4 linked regions of the Homo sapiens genome follow. The protein of the gene in region 1 interacts with the protein of each later gene in a biochemical or structural test. Each region holds a gene or a part of one and is shown in the gene's direction. Other genes may lie near its edges. The genes, in order: TBR1, NFIC, NFIX and HNF1B.

What was found.
Region 2: the proteins of TBR1 (region 1) and NFIC form a complex in vitro, tested with the Homo sapiens proteins (one study listed by BioGRID).
Region 3: the proteins of TBR1 (region 1) and NFIX form a complex in vitro, tested with the Homo sapiens proteins (one study listed by BioGRID).
Region 4: the proteins of TBR1 (region 1) and HNF1B form a complex in vitro, tested with the Homo sapiens proteins (one study listed by BioGRID).

What each region holds. Positions count from the first base shown.
Region 1 is NC_000002.12:161,419,290-161,426,312, forward strand, and holds the end of TBR1 (T-box brain protein 1), read left to right. Parts: intron 1-906; coding exon 907-968; intron 969-4,079; coding exon 4,080-4,938; 3' UTR 4,939-6,581; downstream 6,582-7,023. UniProt on the Homo sapiens protein: Transcriptional repressor involved in multiple aspects of cortical development, including neuronal migration, laminar and areal identity, and axonal projection.
Region 2 is NC_000019.10:3,362,127-3,369,596, forward strand, and holds the start of NFIC (nuclear factor 1 C-type), read left to right. Parts: upstream 1-4,456; 5' UTR 4,457-4,510; coding exon 4,511-4,540; intron 4,541-7,470.
Region 3 is NC_000019.10:13,019,460-13,026,482, forward strand, and holds part of NFIX (nuclear factor 1 X-type), read left to right. Parts: intron 1-4,512; exon of another isoform or gene 4,513-4,572; coding exon of another isoform or gene 4,573-4,575; intron 4,576-5,119; exon of another isoform or gene 5,120-5,174; coding exon of another isoform or gene 5,175-5,260; intron 5,261-5,319; exon of another isoform or gene 5,320-5,537; coding exon of another isoform or gene 5,538-5,561; coding exon 5,562-6,093; intron 6,094-7,023.
Region 4 is NC_000017.11:37,728,048-37,735,070, reverse strand, and holds part of HNF1B (hepatocyte nuclear factor 1-beta), read left to right. Parts: intron 1-1,249; coding exon 1,250-1,514; intron 1,515-3,240; coding exon 3,241-3,476; intron 3,477-7,023. UniProt on the Homo sapiens protein: Transcription factor that binds to the inverted palindrome 5'-GTTAATNATTAAC-3'. Binds to the FPC element in the cAMP regulatory unit of the PLAU gene. Transcriptional activity is increased by coactivator PCBD1.

The sequences.
Region 1 (7,023 bases):
AGGTGGCCAGGATTTCTAAAGACTCTTCTTTTGGGAGTTTTAATTTGGGCTTTGAACTAGAACAGATTAAAATCTACTTTAAAAAAAAATTCTCTCTTTCCTTTAGAAAACAAGCAGATTTCCCCGTGCATTTTATTCTTGGCAAGCTTTGGCATCTAAAAAAAAATTTCTCTCTCTCTCTCTTTTTTTCATCTCAGAACTGATGGCTGAAATGAACAAACATCACTGTTCTGGGAGATCAAAAGAACATACACATTCATATATGTGAAAACTACAATAAATCAAATTACTGAGGGCTATGGATTGAGCTTTCTAGCACTTGAACCACTTCTGATTTTTCAAGTTTGCAAAAACAGATTTTAGTGGCTGATTTGACTACTAGGAGTGATAGGGGTTTTTGTGTTTGTTTCTTTTTTTTACTTAAATGATAATATCAGAAATTAAAACATGCTTTTAAATCCAACCTGATTTTAAGATGCAACTTGTGGTTTCTCAGGTTGTGAGTCAGAAGCGACAAACGTTTTAAAATATAAAATACTTAAAATAGTCAACATTTAGTGATGAATTCAAGTTCTCCTTAAAGATTTTTGTCTGAACAAGTGCATTGTGTGTAACAAGCATTTTTAAAATGTGAGTTTGAACAAATTTAGAAAACACAGGAGAGCTAATTGAAAGCAGTTCTTTGGCTATAGGTATCATTAATTTAAACATGTTCCTCATAACTTTCATGATACTTTCTCTTTTTTTCCTTTCCACTCAATCCCTCAAATTTTTCAGTTAGGAAAACCTTGCTATTTAATAAATTGTAGGCCTTAAGCCCCTGTAAAAGTGGCAGATGATATATTCTCAAACACCCAGTCTTCACGTATAAAAGGTGAGATAACATTCATTTTTTTTCTTTGCCAGATTACACAACTGAAAATAGATCACAACCCTTTTGCAAAAGGATTTCGGGATAATTATGACACGTAAGTAACTTTGTATCTTCCTTTTCAAATAGCTGTGGAATTGGGCTTTAGGTCAAAGGTGTATTATTATGTACAAGGATTTTGAAAGCTGGAATGTGTGAAGACAAGGTTGTTTTAGAGGACTTCTTCTTCTTCGTCTTTCTTCTTTCTTCTTCCTCTTCTTTTTTTTTTTTTTTTTTTTTTTGGTTGGCTCCCCTTCTCTCTGGTGACCTTGTGGCTTGGTACTTGCGTGGTTTTTGGTCAGAGGTTTCCTCCACCTAATTTTAACTTTCCTGTGGATTACAAAGTTGTTGGTGGGCCTCTGGGGCTGGCTGGCTGGCTGGGGAGGCTGCCCTGGTTCTCGGGTGCGAGTACTGTATGTGGCGCTGCAGATGCTCAGCTCAGATTGTCTATGTCTGTCTGAAACGGGCAATTCTGCCTAAAAGTGCATGTGGCTCCTCTGGCAGTTGTTAACAGTCTCCTTAGCATATGCGACCTTTATTTACCCATTTCCAAGTTTTGTATAATAGCATTTCCTGTGCAAGTTGGCTACGGACTGAATACAAATGTGCACCCACCACAGGCGAGTTCATGAGCAGAACCGCTGTTATGGTCATTTTAGGCTTTCGGAAAGATTCAGACGGTGTTGCTGTGTATTATTTATAAGCTTCAAAAGAAAAATATTTCCTCTTTGTTTTGTATCTAGGTGTGTTTTAATTAAACATGCTGGTGCCCTTTTCTTTAGGCCTCCCTTACCTCCCTCCTTTCTATCAAAAGGCTGTTCTCTGGGGCCAACAGTAGGTGTAAACTGAATGCTTTCTGGGCTTGTTCTGCAATTCTCACTCAGGGTCCATAGTGCCTAAGAGTTCAGATAGTGTCATAAATCTAAATCTGGATTGTGGGGTTCCCCCACGTTTTCTGACCATAAAAGGAAAGGGTACATACATCTTAATTTCGTGGCTTACATTGAGCGCCTGAGACAGAGCTAAAAAGTTGAAGCTGCCTTTGACTAGCATAGATTAAATGTGTGGAGAAAGAGACAAGTGACTGCCTCTATTCCATCTCCAAGCAGATACCAACCATCCCTCCTGATATTTTCTAATAATTTAAAAGAGAGTCATTGATATTACTGCCTATAACCACCATATATATTCTTCAAAAGTACTCCAAAGGAACCAAGTCTCATCAATATGATTCCCCAGAATAAAAACTTGGCTACTCTATTCCTCACAATCTAAAAAGGTGTGCCCAGCACAGTGGAAAGTATATGGCTCAAGAGACTAGAGATGTTAGAGGAGAGTCCTGTAGATTTTGAGATTTTAATTCTGTTGTGAACATCTGTTCAAAAGCATTTTATTTTGCACAAATCAATTCAGTAATCCCAAGTGGGTGGGACCTGGATAGGCATCTAAACTGTATCTTTTGCGGACTGCTTTTTTCTTTTTAAAATATTGTGGTGATAAACAGAGAAGATATTTGCACCTTGCTAGTTATGTTCCCTTCCTGCCTCCCTCTACTTCTCTTATTTGAAACTGGAATTCAATTTCAGAAGGGAAATTTTGTGCACTAAACAGAACGGACCTGAGCAGCCACAGCAAAACTCTCACATGCCCCTCCTCCTCTGGCTGCCTTCTGTTGGAAAAGCCACTCCTCTTTGATCTTAAATCACTTTAAATCTTTCATAAAAGCTTCTTTATCTATACACACACACACACACACACACACACACAAACCTGAGATTTTTAGGGGACAGAGAAGAGTTGAGTGGTTCATGACACTCTTCCTTTCCCCTTTTACGTTGGTTACTTGGACATGGCTCAATTTTGGAGAAAGAGGGAGAAGTATAAGGGTTCATGGGGTACTAGGAGCTTGCTTGGCCACTCACCAGGGAATCTCCTCCCCAAAGGATTAAGGTCTGACAAGACTGAGGCTCTCCTTCAAAACAGTCTGTTGACTAAAGATTAAAACATTTATGTGTGAGCTAAATAAAAAGGGAGGCATGTGTGCATGTGTATGAGAAAACACTTCTACCAATCTTCATCCAACCCTTGGTTTCCTCTCAATTCTAATGGGATTTTCTAGGCCCAGGGCCTAAAGTTAATCTTTGATTATTTTATCTAAGGTAATTCCCAACAACACAATCACTGTCGCTGGTTGGGCAAGTTATTTAACTTCCTTTTGCCTCAATTTCCTCATCGGTAAAGTGGGATAATAAAAGTTACCTAGCTCACAGTGCCTGGCATATAGTCGAGCTCCGTAAAGGTTAGCTATTATTAGTGGTCCATTGCATGGAGTAGGCTGATAAGTACACTGTAGGTTTGCCCCGAAGTTTCTGCGGGTAACGGACCAAAAGCTAGGAAAAGAAGGTCAGAGTAAAGAACACCTTTTCTCTTAAGAGAATATTTCTGATTGATGACTACTGTTTCAGAGTAGTAATTCTTGTTTGTATTAGTAGAGGTGGGAGTGAAAGTTTCACACAGGGGAAACAATAGACACTAAGTACTTTGGAGGCTTCCAGCAGCAAACCTCGGGTTCCAGAACACGGGTGAAGGCCAGTCTTTCATGATTACTGCGTGCGCGGCTTTTTCCTAGGGGTTTCTGAAACAATCTAGAAAAAGGAGAGATATCACCTGAACAATCAAATGGACACAGGAGGTCTTAAAAGGGTGGAGGAGTGAGTACCTTGCTTAGAAATTTCACTCATAAACTGACCGCAGAGGAAAGGCCCACTGGGCAAAGAGCATCTTACTCCCTAGGTAAATCTGCCTTAATGTGCACACATATGTTGGAGAAGTGGGATGAAAGTCCTTGCTTGTGCCCCTCTCTCAGTACCCCAGTACACTTGACGAGAGAGAGCAAGAGAAGAGGGAAGTCGTTCCCTTGATGGTCTGTATCTTGCTCAGGTCCCTGCATAGACAGATTGGCTCCTCTATAATTCCGTGATTTATTTTGGGAATGATAGAGGTCTGTGGCCTCTTGTATTCTCCAGGAAATCCTGGACTGCAAGTTTGTAGATGGAGGGTGTGGGGGTGGGCGAAAAGTGGAGGTGGCCTTCCCTTCTGCCCCCACCCCCACCCCAAGGGACCTCCGCGCCACCCCTCGGCTCTCTCTCTCTCTCTCCCTACCCCGCAGGATCTACACCGGCTGTGACATGGACCGCCTGACCCCCTCGCCCAACGACTCGCCGCGCTCGCAGATCGTGCCCGGGGCCCGCTACGCCATGGCCGGCTCTTTCCTGCAGGACCAGTTCGTGAGCAACTACGCCAAGGCCCGCTTCCACCCGGGCGCGGGCGCGGGCCCCGGGCCGGGTACGGACCGCAGCGTGCCGCACACCAACGGGCTGCTGTCGCCGCAGCAGGCCGAGGACCCGGGCGCGCCCTCGCCGCAACGCTGGTTTGTGACGCCGGCCAACAACCGGCTGGACTTCGCGGCCTCGGCCTATGACACGGCCACGGACTTCGCGGGCAACGCGGCCACGCTGCTCTCTTACGCGGCGGCGGGCGTGAAGGCGCTGCCGCTGCAGGCTGCAGGCTGCACTGGCCGCCCGCTCGGCTACTACGCCGACCCGTCGGGCTGGGGCGCCCGCAGTCCCCCGCAGTACTGCGGCACCAAGTCGGGCTCGGTGCTGCCCTGCTGGCCCAACAGCGCCGCGGCCGCCGCGCGCATGGCCGGCGCCAATCCCTACCTGGGCGAGGAGGCCGAGGGCCTGGCCGCCGAGCGCTCGCCGCTGCCGCCCGGCGCCGCCGAGGACGCCAAGCCCAAGGACCTGTCCGATTCCAGCTGGATCGAGACGCCCTCCTCGATCAAGTCCATCGACTCCAGCGACTCGGGGATTTACGAGCAGGCCAAGCGGAGGCGGATCTCGCCGGCCGACACGCCCGTGTCCGAGAGTTCGTCCCCGCTCAAGAGCGAGGTGCTGGCCCAGCGGGACTGCGAGAAGAACTGCGCCAAGGACATTAGCGGCTACTATGGCTTCTACTCGCACAGCTAGGCCGCCCCTGCCCGCCCGGCCCCGCCGCGGCCCGGACCCCCAGCCAGCCCCTCACAGCTCTTCCCCAGCTCCGCCTCCCCACACTCCTCCTTGCGCACCCACTCATTTTATTTGACCCTCGATGGCCGTCTGCAGCGAATAAGTGCAGGTCTCCGAGCGTGATTTTAACCTTTTTTGCACAGCAGTCTCTGCAATTAGCTCACCGACCTTCAACTTTGCTGTAAACCTTTTGGTTTTCCTACTTACTCTTCTTCTGTGGAGTTATCCTCCTACAATTCCCCTCCCCCTCGTCTTTCTCTTACCTCCTACTTCTCTTTCTTGTAATGAAACTCTTCACCTTTAGGAGACCTGGGCAGTCCTGTCAGGCAGCAGCGATTCCGACCCGCCAAGTCTCGGCCTCCACATTAACCATAGGATGTTGACTCTAGAACCTGGACCCACCCAGCGCGTCCTTTCTTATCCCCGAGTGGATGGATGGATGGATGGATGGTAGGGATGTTAATAATTTTAGTGGAACAAAGCCTGTGAAATGATTGTACATAGTGTTAATTTATTGTAACGAATGGCTAGTTTTTATTCTCGTCAAGGCACAAAACCAGTTCATGCTTAACCTTTTTTTCCTTTCCTTTCTTTGCTTTTCTTTCTCTCCTCTCATACTTTCTCTTCTCTCTCTTTTAATTTTCTTGTGAGATAATATTCTAAGAGGCTCTAGAAACATGAAATACTCAGTAGTGATGGGTTTCCCACTTCTCCTCAATCCGTTGCATGAAATAATTACTATGTGCCCTAATGCACACAAATAGCTAAGGAGAATCCACCCAAACACCTTTAAAGGATAGGTGTCTGTTCATAGGCAAGTCGATTAAGTGGCATGATGCCTGCAAAGCAAAGTCAACTGGAGTTGTATGTTCCCCCCACCTTCTAAATAGAATAGCTCGACATCAGCAATATTATTTTGCCTTATTTGTTTTTCCCCAAAGTGCCAAATCCATTACTGGTCTGTGCAGGTGCCAAATATGCTGACAAACTGTTTCTGAATATCTTTCAGTACCCCTTCACCTTTATATGCTGTAAATCTTTGTAATGAATACTCTATTAATGATATAGATGACTGAATTGTTGGTAACTATAGTGTAGTCTAGTGAAGATGAATTGTGTGAGTTGTATATTTTACTGCATTTTAGTTTTGAAAATGACTTCCCCACCACCTAGAAACAGCTGAAATTTGACTTCCTTGGGAGAACACTAGCATTAATGCAAGTAAGACTGATTTTCCCCTAAGTCTTGTTATATTTGATAAGGAGCATTAATCCCCCTGGAAATAGATTAGTAGGATTTCTAATGTTGTGTAGCAAACCTATACTTTTTTGTATTTAAAAATTAATGTGAAATATGCATCATACACAATATTCAATCTAGATTCCAGTCCATGGGGGGATTTTTCCTAATAGGAATTCAGGGTCTAAACGTGTGTATATTTTGGCTCTTCTGTAAATCTAATGTTGTGATTTTTATATTTGTTTCGTTTTGTCTGTGAACTGAATAATTTATACAAGAACACACTCCATTGAGAAACGTTTTGTTTTTTGCTCGTTTGTATCGTCTGTGTATAACAAGTAAAATAAACCTGGTAAAAACGCTAACTATGGTGTTTGAAAGCAGTTTACAGTTTGAAAATAATTTAATTATTATAGGTGATGATATTTAAGGGTTAAGGAAGACTAGCCCGTCCCCACTCCAATATGGGCAGCCTGTTTAATGGAAGCCACCTCCCATTCCCCCCTTAAATTTGTTTTATAGTACTTCCAGGAGCTACTTTTTTCTTCTTATTTATAATTATTTAGCTACCTATGAGCCAAGTCTCACTTTTCTGCGCTCATTTTCTTTTTTCAGGAAAACATATGCACTTTTCTCATCATATTTATCTGATTCTCTCTGAAGTTGGAAATAATGCGAACAGGAAAAGGAGGTTCTTTAAATAAGGAGTTAAGAATTTCTTTAAATTTCACAGAGTAAGGCGGGAGGCGTTGGCCAAAAGTAGGGTGTAATTTAAATGCATGTCAAAATAGGATGTTGACCGCAGAT
Region 2 (7,470 bases), on another chromosome or scaffold:
AGCAGGGAGGTGGCGTGCTGTGTGTCATTGTGATGGTGCGTATGTGACTCTGTGTGTGCCTGTATGGGAATACCGGGGGGTTCCACTTGTGGGTGTGTGTGTGCTTGTAAGAGTGTGTGCTTTTGTGTGGAGTGTGTCTGTGATTGTGGACAAGTGCCCATGTGTTTGTGGTTGTGTCTGCACTTGTGTGGGGGCAGCTATATCCATGCGTTGTGCTTGTCAAGAAGCGTCCTGTGGGGAGTTGGGAGGGTGTGTTTGTGGCTGTGTGTGTGCCATGTGGGTCTGTGTGTGTGTGTGTGTGTCTCTGCTCGCCCCTCTTTGAGGAGGTATCTGAGGTCAGGTGTGGGGGGAAGGCTGTGATGATATATGGGTCTGTTTTTATGTGAGTCTGTGCGTGTATTTGTGTCTTTGTGTATGTAGCTGTGTGTCGTGTGGAGTCTGTGTCTGCAGCTGCTTGAGTCTGCACGATGTGTGTCTGTGTGTCTCTGTAGGTCGTAGTGTGTGGTGTGTGTGTCTATCTGTACCAGCCTCAACGGCCTATCTGACCTTTAACTCACTTGACTTTAACATCCCTTCTTACAGCCTCAGTTTCTCATCTGTAAAATGGGACCACATGGGACCCTTGCAAGGTTCCTGGGGAGCTGACATTGTGAGCCCCTTGCTGAGCAGGTGCGGGGCTAGGGGAGGCTGACTGCACACTGCACTGCTGTGTAATCATTTGCCTGCAAGATTATGTCCTTTATTCTCTGGGTGTGGTGGCTGTGGGGTTACCATGGGGGGCTGGGGGTTCCTGTCTACCCTGCCTGAGCTGCTCTGTGAATTGCATTCAACTTTTTAAGTTTTCCTTTAATTACTGAAGCCATTAGTGATCATATGAAGAGGATACAACTGTATCCAGAGGAAAAAAAATCCAATCTTTCTGATCACCCCCATTCCTGGGTGGAACCCCGCTCCAGAATGTTACCATCTATAGTTGGAGCATTTGCAGGACTGAGAAATACACACTTATAGAGGATACATGTGCATATGTGTATATTTCCATAAAGGATGTACTTGTGGAAATACTCGTGTATTTCCATAAAGGAGACATATGTATATGTATGTGTATGTGTGTGTATATATATATATATATATATATATATATTTTTTTTTTTTTTTTTTTTGAGATGGAGTTTCGCTCTGTTGCCCAGGCTGGAGTGCAATGGCATGATCCTGGCTCACTGCAACCTCCACCTCCCGAGTTCAAGCGAACCTCCAGCCTCAGCCTCCCGAGTAGCTGACATTACAGGCACCCTCGCCCATGCCCGGCTAATTTTTGTAATTTTAGTAGAGACGGGGTTTCGCCATGTTGGCCAGGCTGATTTTAAACTCCTGACCTCAAGTGATCTGCCTGCCTCGGCCTCCCAAAGTGTTGGGATTACAGGCGTGAGCCACTACAACCGGCCAAAGGAGATATGTGTGTGTGTGGGTGTGTGTGCATGTGTGTGTATGTAAAGGATACTATGTATATTTGTATAAATACATGTGTACTCTTTAAAACCCTAAATGAGATCTTGAATTTCCTTGCTGGGTCTACAGCAGTGGGGTCTCAGCCAGGGTTGATTCTGTTCCCATGGGACACTTAGCCATGTCTAAGGACATTTGTGGTTGTCACGACTGGGGGGTGCCCCTGGCATGGAGTGGGTGGAGGCCATGGACTCTGCTCAGCACCCTGCAGGGCCCAGGACGGCCCCAACCCAGAGAGCGATCCAGCCCCAGTGTCCACAGTGCCAAGGGGGAGAGCTCTCCAGCTTTCTGTCCCCCCACTTGTCTCTTGGGGACATAACCAGTTGGGAGCCACTGGTTTTACTCAGCTGCATAGTGTCCCAGCCTGTGTTGGGATTACTAAACCGGTCCCCCACAGATGGACAGCATGGCTGCCTCCAAATTGTGGGCATTAGTTTTATAGGTGGCAGTCAACTCTTTTGTGCTCCTGTATCTGGGACAGTTACAGAGATGCCGAAGAGTGAAATAACTGTAGAGAGAGTGCTTTGAAAAAAAAAAAAAATGAGCCAGATTGTGCTCGAAAGTGCCAGGAGCTAAATCATGCACCCATCTTCCGGGCCCTCCACATGCAGGTCCCAATCTACCAATTGCCTTTTTAAAGAAACTATGACGTACAGTTCCCTGTTGTAACCACGGGCAGGTATTTGCTGACTTGCCTACAACCTGGAGGGTTATGAGCTGGCGTCGCCCCATTTCACAGAGGGAGAGCCGAGGTGCAGAGAGACGAAGCTGCTGACTGGAGGAGACATAGACCCAAGCAGCGAGCCCACGCGGCAATTTAGGGAACCAACTGTGTGTGCTGCGGGGGTCCCTTGCCACCCAAACTGGGATATAGGCTGCTGTTCGTACACTTGCAGAAGTTTCTCCCTGCAGCTACCGCCACCAATAATATTCACACAGCCTTCCCACATGCTATGTAAAGACTCCAACCTTCCCCACCTCCCAAGATGCATCCTGTTACTATAGCCATTTTACAGATGAGGAAACCGAGGTTCCAAGAGGGGCAGTCTCTGCTCTCTAAACTTCACCTTCCAAAGGATTCTAAGCTGCTGAATGAAGGCTGCAGGCAGGGTGGTCTGTACAGGGGAGGGAGGGTGGAAGGCACGGGGTCTGGAAGTCTAGGAGGAGTGTCTGAAGTCAACTGCAACTTTTAAATATCTGTGAATTTTAGATTTCACCCTGTATGTGTCCCTAGCGTGTTTTAATAAAATAAATTGCTTCACGTTATATTGGTATGTGGATTTCCAGATACACTTCTCACCATTTAATTCAAATGCTCCCCACAGCTGCACAGTGGGTTTAAAATACACAGACACACACATTTATGGACCGTTCGTGATGTACTAAGCACTGTTTGAATAATGTCACCGTCATGCAGAGGGGAGCCTGTGGGGGGCCTAGGGAACCTACGCTGCAGGAATTCTGCTCCCTCCTAGTTTACCTGTCAGACCCTGGGCAAGTGGCTTCCGTTCTCTGGGCCTCAGTTTCCTCTCCTGTAATGCCTGAGGATAATGGGTGCTGGTATCTTCTGCGCCCCTGGGCCTGGGGCACCTGCCCCAGCTTGGTGAGAGGGTATCATTTGTCCTTGGGAAGCTCAGAGAGATGAGGTGAAATGGCCAAGCTTTCTAAGAATGTGTCTTTAGTGAACATTTGACCCAAGGTCAAGGCTCTGCTAAGGTCATTGTCCTTATCCCCAGCAATCCCACAGGATGGGCATCTTTAAGCCACTTTATAGGGGAGAACCCTTGGGATGGGAATGAGAGACACAGCAGCCTCTGAGCTAGCCTGGGAGGATCCAGGGAGTGAACCGGGGGAGGGTTGGGGCCCTGTCATCAGATGCCCTGGGGGCTCAGACGGAGGCAGGCCAGGTCTCTGCCCTGTTACGTCTAGAAGGAGAACAGAATGTGGGCTCCAGGTCCAGATGGCCTGGCTCCAAGCCACACTTGCCATACCTCAGTCTTGAGATCTGTGAAAAGGGCACACCCCTGAGGCAGGTGGAAATTATTGGATACCCAGGGGGAGGCTGCAAGGGTTTATCTGGCCAGCTGGAGATCCCGCCTGGACACCGTCCTCCTGGGGTGCTGGAGAGACACACAGGCGAGGCCACCCCTCCCCTGCCCCTTGGGTGCTGGGTGAAGAGAGCAAATTCTGGAGCCTCCCGTGTTAGCCTGGGCCCTTCTGGCCAAGGAAGGGACAGCTGCACACAAGCCCCTCTAGCTGGGGACCCGCAGCCCCTGCCTGGCTCTGGGGGGAGAAGGGAGCCAGGGTGCTGTGGGACCAGCTCACCGTGCACCCAGGGTCGTACATCTTTAAGGGGAAAGAGGCGCGCTGGCCGGCCTCTGCGCACGTCACTTCTTCATTCCTTCCCTCCCCCCTGGCTCTTTCCTCCAACTTCCCGGCCAGCTCGGGGGTGATGGGGGGGTGGGGAGGGGGGGCCTTAAAAATCCACCCCTGGCCCCTCAATGTCCAGAAACAACCCTGTCCCCCCTCTCCGCTTGATCCGAATTGGGGTCGCCCTGCAGTCCTGGGGTCCTGGTCTAGTGCCCTGGGGCATTGCGTAAATACGGGAGGAGCGGGGGGGTCCTGAGACGTCGGGGGAGGCTCTCCTTTCTCGCTCGCGCCCTTTTTTCCCTCGTTTCTTTGAAAGTTGGGTGTTGAGAAGTGGGAGGTTCGGGGTGGGAGGGGGAGGGTGTCAGAGGGTAGAGAGAGAGACAGAGAGACAGAGACGGGGGAGAGAGGAAGAGAGAGACGGAGGGAGAGAGGGACAGAGAGCGAGGCGGGCGGCGCGAGAGAGGGAGAGCAGGAGGGAGGAGGAGGGAGACCGAGGGAGGAGGCGGCGAGGAGAGCGCGCCGGCCGCGGGGCGGGGGGGGGGGTTGGGGGGGGCGGGGGGGTGGTTTGGAAAAATGACTCAGTAAGTTCAGCGCGCCCGCTCCGGCCGGCCCTGCGCCTCCCGCCGCGCCCGGGATGTATTCGTCCCCGCTCTGCCTCACCCAGGTACGGTCCTCGCCCGGCCCCCCGCCGGCGCCCCCGCGCCCCCCGCATCCCAGCCCCGGAGTTTTGAAGCAGGAGGAGGCGGGACGAAAAAGGCGCGCGTCCCTCCCGCCATCCCTGCCCGGGATGCCCCCCGCGCCGAGGGCTGGGGTCCGGTGGGGGGATGGGTCAGGCTGGGGTACCCCCCCCACACCCTTACCTACCGCGGACCCCCTACGCGGGACTCCCGCCCAGCACCCCCAACCCCGACTCTCGGGACCTCTCCCGGATGTGGGGCTTGGTCTGCAGATTTGCGTCCCCCCCCCACACACCGACGCACTCCGCACCCCCGCCCCGACACTCGGAAAGGTCGGGGTGGGGGCTGGCCCCCCTCCAGCAAGGGCTCTGCGGGAAGCCCCCCGCCTGCCTCTGAGAGGAATCTAGGGGGTCGTGATTGGACCCTGGGTCTCCCCAGCTGGAGAGAAAGGGACCTCTCATGTGTTTTCCCCGTGTCCCCCCACCAAGGTTGTGCGGGCCGCCCTGGCCCTCGGTCGCCTTTCCCTCGTTATTGGCCCACGTGTGCATGGAGGGGGAGGGGGCAGGAGAAGTTGGAGGCCCAGGAGGGGGAAGGGTGCTCCGGCGGCCCGGCTGGGTCCCCCCTCCTTTGCAAGCCCCCCAGCACCGTCCCGGTATTTTCGCTGCATCGATTCTGGATTCTGGATTCTGGATTCTGGAGCCGCCGCCGGGAGGAGCGGGAGGCCCGGCGCTCCGGGTCTGGCCCGGGCACTGCGGCGCTGCGGACGCCCTCGCCAGCCCGGCACCTGCCCCGTCCCCTCCCCCTCCCCCTCCCCCTCCCGTAGCCTCTCACCCCTGGCCGCACTCCCAGACTGCCCCGGGGCCGAGCCTTGTGCAATGGCCGAGGGGGTGTGTGGGGAGGGGGCGGCTCCCCCCGGGGACTCCTTCCAGCCCAGGCTCCCGGGGACCCCGAGGTCTGCAAGTTCCGTTTTCTAGACCGCTGCTTTCCTCCTTACGCAGTGTGTCTTTAGGCTGGAGAGGTTCTGGCCTCAGTTTCCCCTGAAGTGAGGTGCGGCTAAGGCCGGTTCTGGAGAGGGGACAGTATGGCGGGCAAACTGTAAAGTCCCGGCACGTGGGGGGTGCGATTCCAGCGAGGGCCAGGCCCGTCTTAAGAAGCACTGTGTGGGGAGTATATGAGTCCCCGGCTTCCGCTCCAGGGCATGGTGCAGTGAGGGACCCCCCACGCCAGGCATGCTCCTTGGTAGGGTCTTTCTCACCGGCCCCCTGCAGCCGACAGGGAATGTGGGAGCTGGTGCTGAGGGGGTCTGAGGTCTGTCCTACCTGTGATCCCCTGAGTGACCTTGGGTAAGTCCCTGTCCCAGCCTCAGTTTCCCTTTCTGAGCAGCTTTGGGGGGGGGGTTCCCGAAGAAGGCATCTCTTTGAAGTTCTCCAAGAACAACTAGGGTTCGAGTGGGCACGCTGTGTGACCTCGGGCAGCCTTTGAAGTCTCTGGGCTTGTGGGGTGACTGAGGTGTCCCCGCTCTGTCCTCACCAGCTGGAAGGAGCCATTTGGGAGGGCTGAGCGGAGGGGAGGCTGTTCCAGGCTGGGGAGGTTGGAAGGCTGCCTGTGCACCCTGGAATTCCCCCATCAGGGCTGGTTGGGAGACATCCTGGTTGCTGGGGTGGGTTGGGGGTTAGTAAGAACCCCAGTCCAGGCTTTGCCTCAGAGAATTGCTAACTCGGCCTCAGTTTCTCCAGGAACAGGGCAAGGACCAGCCAGGAGGGCTGTCTGTGGAAACCAAAAAACGGAGAGGCTAAAAACTAAAAACTATCCAGGGGTGCTGCGTGCAAGAGACAGAGATGAGAAGACAGAGACAGGCAGAGAGACAGAGGCAGAGAGCTCCCAGGCCAGAGTGGGGACAGCGAGTCCCAAGTGCAGGGGGCTCCCTCCTCCCCTGCGATTCTCCTCTCTGCCCCGCCCTCCACCCCAGCCCTGTAGTGGAGCTGGGGACCCCCTTTCCAGTTTGTCTTCAGCCTGAATGTAATCCCCACTGTTCCCCCAAGGCCCAGCCTGGTCTGGGGTAGCCAGTGGGGTGGGCTGGGGGACTCAGAAGGACCCTGAGTGCCCCATGCAGGAGCCTCCCACCCAAGTCCTGGCTGCCTGACTCAGTTTCCCGAATCACGTCCCCTCCGTTTCTCTCATCTTGGTCTCTTTTTGTCTGTCTTTCTCTCTTTCTCTCTGTCTTGCTCTGACTCTGTGTGTGTGTGTGTGTGTGTGTGTGTGTGTGTGTCTGTTTCTCCCTGTCTCTCCATCTCTGTCTCTCCCCGCCTCTGTTTCACTCCCAGTCACTGTTGGTCTCTTTGTGTCTCTCTTTCTCATCCTCTGTCTCTCTGATGTCTCAGTCTCTCCCACTGTCTCTGTCTCTTCATGTCTATCTCACCATCCCTTTCTCCTCTTTGTCTCTGCATGTCTCTTTGATGTGTCTCTGTCTCTCTGTCTCTCCCTCCCTTTGCCTTCTTTGTGTGTCTGTCCGATGTGTCTCTGTCTGTTTCTCTGTCTCTGTCTCTCTGCCCCCTTCCTCTCTGTCTCTGTTTCTCTCCAATATGTCTGTCTGTCTCTTCATCTCTGTCTCACCTTCCCTTTCTCCTCTGTCTCTGCGTGTCTCCCCTTGCCCCCTCTCTCCCTGTCTCTCTCTATCTCTGCATGTGTCTCCTTACTCCTCTCTCTCTGTCTCTCTCTGTCTCTGGGCCTCCCTCTCCCCCTTTTCCCAGCTAATTTTACAACCTGAGCCCAACCGAAAATAGCTCCCTTTTAGCTGATCCGACCCGGATCCTTCTCGGGAGCCGAGGCTGGCGGGGGGTGGGGGGCATCTCGGTGCCAGCCCGCTCTGTGCCACCCGGGCCCGGCCCGCCGAGTGGGGAGTGGGTGCTGGCGGCCC
Region 3 (7,023 bases), on another chromosome or scaffold:
TGTCTTCTTATTTTTCTTCCTCTGCTGTTCTGTTTCCCTCCATCTTTGTCCTTCTTTCTTTTCAGTTGTGGGCCTAGCTTGGCACTCTCTCTCCAGGTTTGGCTTTTTTCTCTTTTTTCGTTCTCCTTCTCTCTATTTCTCTTTCTCCGTGGCCCTTTCAGTCTTTTTCTGTTGGGGGTACATTTCTCCTAGTGATGGCTGAAACTGGCATGGGTATGTATTTTAGAAATGTTTCAGTGAAAACTGTTGCTGGTTTTTTTTTTGTTTGTTTGTTTTTTTTTTTTTTTTACCAAATAGTACTCAACAATAAAAGACAGAGGCTTTTCTTCCATAATGGCAGCAAAATCCCTTTCCACAAACCAAAAACCCATATGAATTTTTAAAAAGTCTTATTTCTGGCTTCTCGATGATTTTTCTCTCCAATGGGGGAAATACCTTTCCCCCACAATGTTTCCTGCTTTTCCTTTTTTCCCCCCTTGTCTTTTTTTTTTCTCTTCCTATTACCAGCATCAGTGGCTTCCTTTCCCCATTTCCCATGTCCTTCTACTCTGTGGCCTGCATGTCCCCTTGCTCTTTCCATCACCTGAACTCTTACACTTGCCAGTGACTCAGACCTGGAGAAGCCTTGAATCGTATGAGGGATTTTTTGTCTTGATTCTGGTCTTTGGTGCAGGATGTAAAGCGGTCTGATCTCCTGCCTGGGGCTGGAGGGGAGAAGAGAAGGAGGCTGGGCTGGGAACAGGTAATCTTCCAACAGGAGCCTCCACTCTTTAACAAAAGGGGGACAGTTTCCTTTTGTCTAGGGCTCATGAGGGGCGTGTCTGGGCTGATGGCCGCCACCAGTGGCATGCAGGAGGAGGGGGCCCGCAGTGAAGGGTGCTTGAAATGTTTCTAATGGAACCCGAGCAATTCCTCTGTGTGCGCCCAAAATAGGAGGGGAGGAAGGGAGGGAGGGAGGAAAGAGAAATAGAGAAAGAGACCTTCTCATCTCCCGAAGCATCAGAATATCCTGGCCACTCCTCCAGAAAGGCCTCCTCCACTGGGAGCCAGCAGCCCATAGAGAGAATGGGGTGAGGGGAAAGTATTTGCCTGAGAATCTTCTGCCCACCTGCAAGGTTATAGCCACTGGCAGGAGAAGGACAATTGACAATTGTTCTTCCTCCAACTTTCTGCCCTGGGAAAGGCCTGTTGCTTCTTCTGTTAAGAGAGCCTTGAGGGGGTGCTTGGGGCTCTTTGTAGGTCCCTGAGGCTCTATTGAGACACTCTTCTGCCGCCTCTCCTCTGATCTCTCCGCCAGTCCGTGGAGTTTTGACCCCCAACCCCTCTCCAGGAGCCAGTCGTGCATCTTGTCCTGTTTCCCTAACTTCTACATGGATCCTTCCATCTGTCATTTCCCAGCTGTGGGACTGTTGCTGCCCCCACCTCTATCCCTGACCCAGTTGTACCACCAGATTCAGATTCAACCCATGTCGAGCATGTCTCTTCTACTGTGGCACTGTGGTCTGTGAAGTGGAACATGCCAGGATTCTCCAGGAGGCTCGTGTTGGCCATTTTCTGTTTGGTGTCTAATATTTAGTATAAATCAGAATACAAGAAAAACACCTCCATGCCAAATATAAACTCACTTGTAGTTTTTAATGACCTCATCTTGACTTTAGAAGGTAAAATTGTTTCCACAAGGTGGAGAGGCAGGATTTGGTACCTTATGTCATGTCTCTGAGCTAACATCTTTGGCTGATTGGACTGAAGCTGGTTATTAACATGATGTGAATTATTGGACACCACCCTAAGAGGCCTGTCTCTGATACCACCTGCCTTCTGTACTCTCACCTCTAACCGTTTCTTTCAGGGATCAGCCATGAGCTCAGTTCACTTGAGATGGATAATTCAGGGCACAGACTGGGGTCCCAGGTGTTGGGCAGCCCCTCTCCCATTGTCAGGGTTCAGCGCCAGCCCAGGGCTGGATGTTTTATTTTGGCATGCCCCAGGTGCTCTTCCGGGAACCTTTCTGCCAACATAAAGGCCACAAAGCACAGGGTTTCAGTTGGGGAAGAAAGGGGCACGAGTGAGCAGTGACCTTTTTTCCGTCGCCAGCTGAGGACTGAGCCTCGCTGAGGGAGAGGGCGGCTGTAGGGATGGGGTTCTGAGTGGAATTGGATCCCTTTCTCCCTGTCTGCAGCCACATCCTTCTTCCTCTGCTTTTCCTTTTATGTCATATCTATTTCCTTCTTACTGTGTTTCGAAGGCCTCAAGCATGGCTGCTCCATAGCTCTAACTGGAGAGACCCCCTCAGAAGTGGGACTCCCCTACCCAGTGCTCACCCTTTCTGCTTGCTGTGAGGAAGGTCCCCAAGTGGAGGACCAGAGCAGGGGCTCCCCGGTGGGTCACTTCTCTGTGACTTGATTTCCCCCAGGTGGCCTGTTTTTGATAGAGCCCTTTGCTGTTTTTTGTTGTGTCCTTTCTTAGCTCTTTTCTTTTCATTTGGGTTTCTCATTTTATACTTTTGCACTTTGCACTGCTAGGGTTTGGGCTCTTTAGTCTAAATTGATTTGGGAGACAGGTAAGAAAACTAATCTCAGGTCAACTGGAGAGGGCAGATCTGGAGAATTAAATGCCTGTGCAGTGGTGAGGGGCGTTGGTCAGATTCCTTGCCTCTGCTCAGAGGTAGTGTCCATCTTTTTGCCTTTGTCACTTCTCCCCGGGTCTGGCTGTTGTTTGTGGCTGCGTGTAGAGCTTGTCAGGCGGAGTGCTGTGACAGGAGGCTATTTTAATAAACTGTTGCAGTTTCTCGAGCCGAGCTGTGTTGCGTTGGCATCCCTCGTCACCGCTAATGGAGTGTGCGTGGCTGGGTGTGGGCCGAAGGAGGAGGCTGAGCTTGCTGGGGGCTGGGGGAGAAGGGAGGGACGTGTGGGGTGCTGGCCTCCCCCTTGTCTGAGAGTGCTCCTTCAGCAGCCAGACCTGGGGGCATCACAAGGTGGCAGTACCCTGGGCACCAGATCCCTGCCCTGGAAGTACTGCTGGCATGGACACTTTCTGAGCTCTCTTTCTTCTTATTTCTATTCATAGCACCGCAGGCCCGTGTGTATGTGGCCGGGGAGGAAAACTTCCACTCGCCCCTGTGTGCTCCATAGGAAGAAAAAAAAAAAGAAAGAAAGAAATAGAAACAGAAAAAGAGAGTGTGCAGGCCCGAGAGAAAGACTGAAACCAAAACACAGAGAGAAGGCGCAGCTGCTTCCCCAAGGCCTTCTGGGGCTCCCGCCCGCCAGCCCGCCGGGAGTCAGGCCTTTATTTATTTATTTTTCAGGCTTAAAAAAAAATTTCGAGTCTTCCACAATCCCAGTCCCCCCCAATGCCCCACCCCACCCCCAGATTTGCTGGGTGGCTGCTGCCAAATGGACCCGAGTGGGAGCCTGGAATGAAAAATTCATAACTGCTGGACTTTGCTTGTTCATTAGACGTGAACTTGTCGATTGGGCAAATTGTTTTTGGTCTCCAACTGCCGGGGGCTCTCCCCACCCTCCCTGCTCGCCCGGTTCCCTCCTCCCCTTGGACGCAGCCATTGGCTGCTCGTGGATGTCTCTTTGCCAAATAGGTGGATCCTTCTCTCTCTTTCTCTCTCTCTCTCTCTCTCTCTCTCTGTCTCTTTCTCCCCCCACCCCTTTTTACTGGCTTGGCACAAGCAAATGGATGGGGATTGAGCCTGAAAGGAGAGAGAGAGAGGGAGTTTGAGAGAGAGAAAAGGAGCAAAAAAAAAAAACACCCCAAAAACCCAACCAGTGCGCACACACACGCGCACACTCACACACACGCCCCATCCCATCCACGTCCTCCCTCGATCCTCGATCTCTCCCTCCCCCCCTTCTTCCTTTCCTCCCTCCCTCGCTCCCTCTCTCTCTTTTGCACGCGTCTGCCAGCAACGGTCTGCAGCCGGTCAGAACTCGTCCTCTTCCCCGGGAATCTGCGAGCTCCCCCTTTTCCTCCGATCAGGCAGCTCGAAGTTTACACCCCTGTGCCGCTGCCAAAGCCGAAAGCCTTTTTCTTCAGCTGCCGCTTTTTCCCTCCTGGGTTTTGTTTTTGTTTTTGTTTTGCACGGGGGTGGGGTGGGGTGCGTTGTTGGTTGTGGGGAGATGGTGGGAGGCTGGTTTTGATTTTTAAATTTTGCATTTTTTTCTTTTTTTTTTTTTTTAAACTGGAAGAGGATGCACAGGGGAAGAAATTGAAAAAAAAATTTTGTTGGCTTTTGTTTACCTGGCGTGTGTGGCAGCCGGCTCGCTCCCTCTCTCTGCTTGCTATCCCTGACCTTTCTTTCTTTTTGCTCCTTTTCAAAAAAAATATTAATTTCCCCCTTCTGTGCAATGGAGCATGGGGGGGGGGAGGAGGGGGAAGGGTTTGAGAATCCACCCAAGCCCGGCCCCTATTCCCCAGAACACCAATAATAACCCCCTTTAAAACATTTACCTTCCTCCCCTGCTCCTCCTCCTCCCCCCTCCCCCCACCCGCCCCCAACTCACAACTCTTTTGAGTCCAGAATCTCAGAATCGGGCGTTGGGCTTTGCCGGGTGCTTCAGATCAATGGTAATTATTTAATTTTTTCCAGTTTTATTTTTGTAAACAGAAATCAATTATTATTTAAACTTCAAACAAGCAAACAACCAAAAAAAAAAAAAAAAACCAAACAAAACCGAGAGAGCCCATCCTTCTGTCACCTGACTGAGTGGGAAAAAGGGTGAAGGGGTTGTGGGAGGCTGGGGAAGGGGTCGCAAGAAGACCCATGTAGCTTTTAACCCTAATGTGGCCGAGACAAGCACCTTATTTGTGCTAACAAGAAGTGTTTTGTTCATTATTACTGTGATTAACATTAGTATTGGTGTCGATAACAAAGCTGAAATCACATATTTAGGATTTAGGTCTGATTAAAAAATGTTGGGGTGGATGTTCCAACTGGATCAGGAGAAAAGAAAATGAAAACAGCCTGGGGAGAGGGAAGCCTGATCTGTTTCCTCACTCGCTTGCTCGTGGATGTCATTTTCTGTCTTCTTGGGGGCGGCCAAAAATCGACCGGTGTCGGGGACCAGAGGCGGCCCCGCACGCCCCCGCGTGTGCGTCCACGGGCGTCTGTGCAGACGGACACTGTGCCGGGGCGAGCTGACAGGAGTTCACGGCTGCGATAGAACATGGAGATGTCATGGGCGCGACAGAGCCTGGCGGGGATACCAGCAGCGTGTGTGTGTGGACGGCAACGTTGTCTGTGCGCGTGTGTGTGAGTGAGTGAGGGAGAGAGAGAGAGAATAGGTGTGTGTAGAGGCTCCCGGTGCCTCTGTCTGGCTGCTGAGGCTGAGATGGGAGCAAGTGGCTGGCGAAGCTGGTGGTGGCTTCAAACCACACTTTCGTAGAACAATCGCAAGAGAAAATTGTTGGGGGGAGGGAGGAGGAGGAGAAGGCGGTTTTCCTTGTGCCCCCCCTTCTAACGCTGCTTTTCTCCTTCTCTCTTTCCCCCTCATCCCGTCTTCCCCTCCTCCCGTCCTCCCTCGCCCCGCATGCTCCCGGCTTGCCGCCTGCAGGATGAGTTCCACCCGTTCATCGAGGCACTGCTGCCTCACGTCCGCGCTTTCTCCTACACCTGGTTCAACCTGCAGGCGCGGAAGCGCAAGTACTTCAAGAAGCATGAAAAGCGGATGTCGAAGGACGAGGAGCGGGCGGTGAAGGACGAGCTGCTGGGCGAGAAGCCCGAGATCAAGCAGAAGTGGGCATCCCGGCTGCTGGCCAAGCTGCGCAAGGACATCCGGCCCGAGTTCCGCGAGGACTTCGTGCTGACCATCACGGGCAAGAAGCCCCCCTGCTGCGTGCTCTCCAACCCCGACCAGAAGGGCAAGATCCGGCGGATTGACTGCCTGCGCCAGGCTGACAAGGTGTGGCGGCTGGACCTGGTCATGGTGATTTTGTTTAAGGGGATCCCCCTGGAAAGTACTGATGGGGAGCGGCTCTACAAGTCGCCTCAGTGCTCGAACCCCGGCCTGTGCGTCCAGCCACATCACATTGGAGTCACAATCAAAGAACTGGATCTTTATCTGGCTTACTTTGTCCACACTCCGGGTAGGTCGTTCTCAACCATTTTTCCCTCTCATTTTATTTTCCTTGCTGGCATTTGTTCTGTTTATTGTTCCTCTAATTTCCAAGCGATAACTCGCCATGGGCCTAACTGGTGTATGCCCGTCCTGCGGGGCCTGCAACACGGTTCTATGGGCCCTTTTCCTTTTTCCTGTCTTCTGTCTCCCCCGACCTGTTCTATTCTTCCTCCTCTGCCCCCTGGCCATGGTATCGACTTTGTGCATCTCCATCTTTGGAGGACTTATCTGATCAGAAAGATGCTGCAGGTCTTAGGATTGGGGACATGATGCCCCCAGAATTATCCATGATGGTGAGAGTTTGAGATGAACAACAACAGCAAACCAGTAATTGCTCTTATTAAAATGAGTCAGAAGAAGTATTGAGGGGCAGGTGCTAGTTTTACTGCAGCTTCACCTCCAGTCCCAGGAAAAACTGGGTTTGGTACAAGCGGGATGGGCAGGAGTCCGGTGGAGAGAAGGGGCATGTGAAACCCTGGGATATGAGACTGAATGAACAGAAAAGAGGAGAGAAGACAGTAGTGGGCAGATTCTGTGGCCTAAATACTCAGGCGGGAGCTGTTTTGGCTGGGATTTGGCTGTCAGTATGAAAGTAATTTGATTTCATAGAGAGTGAAAACAAGGACGAGATTCCTTGAGCTCTTTCCCTTCTCCTTATTTCAGCTAAAGTGGCAAGGCCTCAGGATGGATGCCCACAGCCCTGGCACTGGGGAGCAGAGAGGCTTTCTCGGGGCACAGGCATGGCAGGGAGCAGCGTTGCTGTGGAAGAGGTCTTAAACAAGCAAACAAACAAACCAAAAAAAAAAAAAACTCTGTAAAATCTCCTTTTCCTTTTGTGTTCCAAGTAGTTCTGCTTCTCTTCGCTTTTCCAGTTTTACCCTGCATTTTGGGTCAGGGT
Region 4 (7,023 bases), on another chromosome or scaffold:
CACCTGTAATCCCTGCACTTTGGGAGGCTGAGGCAGGTGGATCACCTGAGGTCGGGAGTTTGAGACCAGCCTGCCCAACATGATGAAACCCCATCTCTACTAAAAATACAAAAAATTAGCTGGGCATGGTGCCGCACACCTATAATCCCAGCTACTCAGGAGGCTGAGGCAGGAGAATTGTTTGAACCCGGGAGGCGGAGATTGTAGTGAGCCGAGATCACACCACTGTACTCCAGCCTGGGCAACAAGAGGCAAACTCTGTCTCAAAAAAAAAAAAAAAAGATATTAAGATCCAGAACATAGGGACCCAGAGCTAGGAGATGAATGTATTACGTGTCTTTGCTCAGCAGAGTGCTTAGCCTCCATGTTTATTCATCTTTAAAATGGAATTAATCACTCCTGATGAGCCCTGCTTCATGCAGATGTGAAGACGAGGACAGCAAAGCTTTCTTCTTCGGTAATGTAGATATCAAATCTCATTAAACCATGTGGGCTAAGGCATCACCTCTGGGCCGAGCTGCTGGTTCTCATTCATTCCACAAAAATCTCCTGATGGTCACAGTATGCCTGGACTCAAGGAATTGGACAGACAGGGAGCATCATTTCCAGCTAATTAAACACTACTCCCAGACAGGTCCTGTGTTTGTAGTCTTTGAAATTATTTTGAGATCTAAAGCACATTTTCTTTTTCCAATACAAAGCTCCAGTTATATTTATTTCAAAGCATGTTCCAAAAGGTTTGGGGTTTTTCTAAAAACCTGACTTTATAATGTAGATACCTAGGATATAGGAAGAGGGAGGAGAGGTGGGGAGTGCTATCTACAGCCTCTGAATATTTTGTGCAAGTGTAAATTGTACCTTTGAGCAGTTCTCCCCTGGATGTGAGACTTGATTGAGCTCACCCACTTGACATCAAATACAGGAGTTCAGGATGCAGAGTGTTGCTTCATCTCTGAAGGCCAGTGAGCCAAAGGGGAAAAAATAATAATTTTCTTAAAACTATAGCTGGCTATGTTTGAGCTCCTTCAAAGAAAGGAAAAGGGTGGCTTTGCTGGAGCAACTGAGGTGGGCAGTAAGGGCCTGTGCTGAGGGCTCCCCATCTCCAGCTCCACATGCAGTGAGAGAAGGTTGCAAAGCTTAGTTAGACGAGGGGAATAAAGGTGTCTTCGTCCGTTGTCTGTCTGTCTGTCTGTCTGTCTGCTGAGTGAAGGCTACAGACCCTATCAAATCTACTCCTTTCTCTTTTCAGAATTCAACCAGACAGTCCAGAGTTCTGGAAATATGACAGACAAAAGCAGTCAGGATCAGCTGCTGTTTCTCTTTCCAGAGTTCAGTCAACAGAGCCATGGGCCTGGGCAGTCCGATGATGCCTGCTCTGAGCCCACCAACAAGAAGATGCGCCGCAACCGGTTCAAATGGGGGCCCGCGTCCCAGCAAATCTTGTACCAGGCCTACGATCGGCAAAAGAACCCCAGCAAGGAAGAGAGAGAGGCCTTAGTGGAGGAATGCAACAGGTAACACCACCAGAAGCTCACCTGGGCAGGTGGGCAAGTACACAGACCCAGGAACCCTCCCCTCGGTCCTGGGATATTGAGACACTAGTTATACAGATAAGTGTGGCTAAATCAGAGCTTCTCAAAGTATGTTCCACAGAACCCCAATATCAATTCATTAATCAGTAAGTCTGAGAATCAGCATATGGATACTTCCCCTTAGAGAGTCACAACATATATTAAAGGTTCCGAGAAGCCCTGCAGTCAAGAAACCCACTTAGCTTTGTTGAATTGGTTGTTAACTATGGAATCTTCGGTAGAGTACAAACAACCCCATGAATTATTCTTCCAGGGAAGATACTCTGGAGAATGCTAATTTAAAATATGATACTTGGGAAGCGAAATTGTGTGTTTGACCTCCCTGCAGGCCAGGGTAAAACTTTCCCTTAGCCACAGACTCTAGATCTGGCCTCTACCAATTGTCAGACATGCAGTGGTCCAAAAGGAAACTTGGCAGGAGAGTAAGAATTGGTCAGATCTGTTCAGTCCACTCTGCCCCCGCTGACTCAACAGAGTTCTTTTTACTTGTTAACTACCAGCCAGGCACGGTGGCTCACACTTATAATCCCAGCACTTTGGGAGGCCGAGGCGGGAGGATTGCTTGAGCCCAGGAGTTTGAGACCAGCCTGGGCAACATGGTGAAACCCTATCTCTATTTAAAAAAAAAACAAAAAAACAAAAAAACAACTCTGTGTTATTTTAAGTATTTATTTTTAAAATGTGGTCTTGCTATGTTGCCCAGCAGATCTTGAACTGGGCTTAAGCGATCCTCCTGCCTTGGCCTCCTAAATAGCTGGGATTACAGGCTCTAGCCACAGGGCCCAGCTATTTTTTTTTAAACGATTGGAAAGCCTTGGGAAATCTTTTTACTTCATTCCTGCCCTGTTCTCCCTGACTCCAGTATTGACTTTCTAAAACTTCAGCTCTTTGGTCTGGCCAAGGCCTGTGTGCGCTTTCTCTGTCTCTGGGCTGGGCTGGCCTTGGCTGTGGGAAGAATGCAGCCAGGGAGGTCAGGCTGGGAAGCAGGGAGGCCTGTATTGCCACTGAGTCCTCAGGCTGTGCTCCATACCCCGACTAATGAGATGCCTTGCAGCACCCAGTAGTGTCTAAGAATCTCTCGCACCTGGTTTTGAGGTTTCACCAGCCCTGATAAAGCTAGAGACTGGCCATCTCAATGCACCCTGCTTTGTACCCCACCCAGCCTGCCTTTTGGAGGGGATAAAGCATCTTGCTTCCTGGCACTCTTTCAGGGAGTTCAAGCCCCAAAAGACCAGAAATCCTCTCGAAGTGCTTTGAAGCCACTCAAGACAGAGCCAGCGAAGGGCTTTGCCTTTTATGTGGTGGGAAGAATGGCTAAATAAGGAAGCCCCATCTGGACCTTCCCCTGGACTGCCTGTCCCCGGCTTGCTCTCTTCTCCTCGAGAGCCACACCAGAGCCTAAGCCCCTGACTCCCAGGGCGGCATAGCCTGCTCTGTCCCTGCGTTCAGGCCCACTTCAGCCATCTTCATCAGATCACTCCATGGATTGGCCTTTTCTCTGCATAGGCCTCTCCTCCCCAGCCTTCCATTCTGCCCACGGCCCCTTCATACTCCCAACCAAGACTGCTGTGATTGTGTGTTTTTGGCCAAGCACCAACAAGTCCCCCCGCCCCCCCTCACTCACCATCTCCCCTCCATCCATTCCCAGGGCAGAATGTTTGCAGCGAGGGGTGTCCCCCTCCAAAGCCCACGGCCTGGGCTCCAACTTGGTCACTGAGGTCCGTGTCTACAACTGGTTTGCAAACCGCAGGAAGGAGGAGGCATTCCGGCAAAAGCTGGCCATGGACGCCTATAGCTCCAACCAGACTCACAGCCTGAACCCTCTGCTCTCCCACGGCTCCCCCCACCACCAGCCCAGCTCCTCTCCTCCAAACAAGCTGTCAGGTAAGCAAAGGTTGGGCCTCACTGCCTCGGCAACCCAACCATCCTGGTTCTTGCCACGGATCTTATCTGGTTTAAGGGTTTTCAGAGGAGCAAACGCTTTTGAGATGATCCTAGGGCCGCTCTCTCATTGCCAGAATATACTCCCCTGGAAATAATGTGTGGCTCTGATCAGTTTCCTCCAACTCCTGGTTCAGCCATTGCCCTGTGAGGGCTCACTCGGCTTCCAGGGAGCCCTTTACCCTATTTGTCTCCTTCCCTCTTCTTCTCCCTGTGTGGCTGCTGACTCAGCGGTCATTCTACACTGAGGAGGCTGCCTTATGGGTGGGCCAGATCCAAACCGCAGGCAAACGGGTCGTGATGGCGTGGCAACCCTCACTGTGTTGGAGGATGGCACTCCGGCCACCTCCTCCATCTCTGGCCATATCCTGCCCCTCGCTCGGTCCGGCTGCCTCAGGAGAAGCTCAGTAGCCTTTGGGGACGGCCACTCTGTTGGTGGCCTCTGCTTGTTGGCTTCCGTGTGTCATCAGGGTTGGTGGGGGTCAGTCACTTGAAATCTTTGCAGCAATGAGTTGGGAAAAACTGACCGAGTACCTGCTCCATCATGCTTGATTGAGTGCTCCTGTGTGCTGGGCCCTGGCCTGGATTAGAATGCCTCTGCTGTGGGCTTTGGGTTTGTCAGGATGGAATCCTACAGCCTCCTTGGGGGAAAGCACACCTCATGCTGAGCGCTGTGTTAGGCACAGGCTGGGATGGAGCACTTCTTCTGGTCCTTCATTCTTCTGGCAAAGCTGGCTTCCTAGAATGGATGTGCTCACTGGGGTCTGTGTGGTGCCCATGAGGACAAAGTGTAGCAGCCTCCTGCCTGCTCCAAGAAAAGGGCTTGCGAAAGGAAAGCCAAACACTGTTTCTAACTCAGGGGTGATTCTGAAACCTGTTGGCTCCCCTCACCTGTCGGTTGCCCTTCTGATGAGAAAGGCCTGAGGGCTGGGGGCTGACCCAAGTGTTGAGGGGACCAAAGCCACCAAGACAGGCTCGGAGCCATCAGCTGGGTGGTGTACAAGCATTTGTTCCATGCCTGCTGTGCCCTCCCATAGCACTGCCTCTTCCAGGGCCTCTGGGAGCCTGACAGTGCCCAGCATGAAGGTGGGGCCAGTGCTGGGGGTTTCTGTAGGTCCCACTCCCACAGAGGAGAGAGGCTCAGCCACACAGGAAGAAAGTCTTGGTTACTTAAGAGGCAGAGAAGCCCCTAGGCAAAGACTGGCCTGATTGCAGAGTAACTTCGCCCCTTTAGGGAAATTCAAAGCAGGGTTCTGAGGGTTGTGGCAAATGGCACATGGCTGGCACTGAGCAGTACCAGTGTGCTTGCCCACCACAGCGATCCACGGAGCTGAAGCTGGGAGCTACAGGGGGCGTGGTTGGGGCAAGGGGCATTACTGGGAAGACAATGGCCATTGTGTTGGGACCTGTGATCTCCACACCAAAGTCAGGGAGCCTGGAAGCCAAACAAAGGCCCAGCAGCCTTCTGACAAGCAAGGGCTGTGCTGAGGTCACCACGGGGTCGTTGGTTTAGGCATCCTGTGTGCTGACAGGAGACCCAGAGAGCTAGGGCTGGAGGGACAGGGAGCAGGGCAGAAAACACAGCCTGTGTACTCCTCTGACTGGAGTCTAGGAAGGGCGTGTCCCATGGGAAGTGGATACTCTGGGGTGCCCCTGAAGTCTGGATCTTTCTAAAAATCTTGTAATGTTAGAATTTGGAGGGAATTTGAAGAAAGGAACTGAGGCCCAGAAAGAGGCAGTGATTTGCCAAAGTGACACAGAGCAATGGTAGCAAAACAAGGACTAGAGCTCAGGCCTGCTGGTTCCCACTCCATACTTTCCCACAGCACTACGATGTGTTGAATGCTTACCAAGTCCTGGGAATATGCTAGTGATGTACGAGCTGCGCGTCCTGCCCTCTGGGAGGTTACTGTCTGGTAGGAAGGATATCGGGTCACTGTCGAGTCCCCAGAACCAGCTGCAGATGGAGGTTTTGTTTGGGGGCTTTGTGGATCTTTCTGCGGTGTAATAGATCCTATTACTGTTTCTGGAGCAACAGTTATGGGACACTGAATATTATCAGTGGCTGCCTTTCTTCTGTCTTTTTTTTTTTTTTTTTTTTTTGAGAGACAGGGTCTACCTCTGTCACCCGAGCTAGAGTGCAGTGGTGCAGTCTTGGCTCACTACAGCCTCGAACTCCTGGTCTCAAGCAGTCCTCCTGTCTTAGCCTCCCAAAGTGCTGGGATTACAGTTGTGAGATTGTGCCCAGCCCTTCTGCTTTAATTTTCACTCTGGGCTCCTCAACATGGTCCTTGTCCCAAGCCCAGGGACTGGCTTCTCTTTCTCTGAGTGTAGTTATGTATCTGGGTTCTAACCAGTAAGGTTATAACTGTGGCTAATTCACATAACTTCTCTGAGTCTGAATTTCCTGCCTACAAAATGGAGAAATAGGACCTTCCACACAGGGTGCATGTGAGGATGAAAGGAGTGAATGTATAAAGACACCTTTCCCGATAACCCATACTACCCTCATTATGACTCTTAACATTAGAGAGGGCTAAACAAGGGCAGTGAGAAGACTGGCAGGCAGCAGAAATCATTTTCTTTTTGATCTCACACACCAGGGCATTCCCCCTAAGAGGCAGTGAGATGTAGCCTGGCCCTGGAACTAGAAACAGAGGTGGCTGCTGTGCTAGTGCCTGAGATGCACGATGCTGGGGTCAAAGACTTGTGTCCCCACCTCAGGCTGCCAGGATGGCGTGTGTGCCGTGACAGGGCTCCCGAGTCATGCACTCAGGCAGACAGCAGGCTGGAGCCCAGCATTCAGGGGTGGCTTCTGTCTGTAGAGCCGCATGGCACTCTTCCCACCTCAGTGCCCACAGCCAAGGTAGGGTCACTAACCAAGCCAGAAACGTAACTGTGTGCAGAATACCGAAAAAAAAAAAAAAAAAAAGGCCGGGTGCGGTGGCTCACGCCTGTAATCCCAGCACTTTGGGAGGCCGAGGCGGGCGGATCACGAAGTCAGGAGATCGAGGCCATCCTGGCTAACACAGTGAAACCCCGTCTGTACTAAAAATACAAAAAATTAGCCGGGTGTGGTGGCGGGTGCCTGTAGTCCCAGCTACTTGGGAGGCTGAGGCAGGAGAATGGCGTGAACCCAGGAGGCGGAGCTTGCAGGGAGCAGAGATCACGCCACTGCACTCTAGCCTGGGTGACAGAGCGAGACTCCGTCTCAAAAAAAAAAAAAACGCTCTGTGGGCTAGGTGTGGTGGCTCACACCTGAAATCCCAGAACTTTGGAAGGCCAAGGCAGGCAGATCACTTGAGGTCAGGAGTTTGAGACCAGCCTGACCAACATGGTGAAACCCCATCTCTACTAAAAACACAAAAATCAGCTGGGCGTGGTGGCAGGTGCCTGTAATCCCAGCGACTCCGGAGGCTGAGGCAGGAGAATCGCTTGAACCCGGGAGGCGGGAAGTGGAGGTTGCAGTGAGCCGAGATGGGCCACTCCA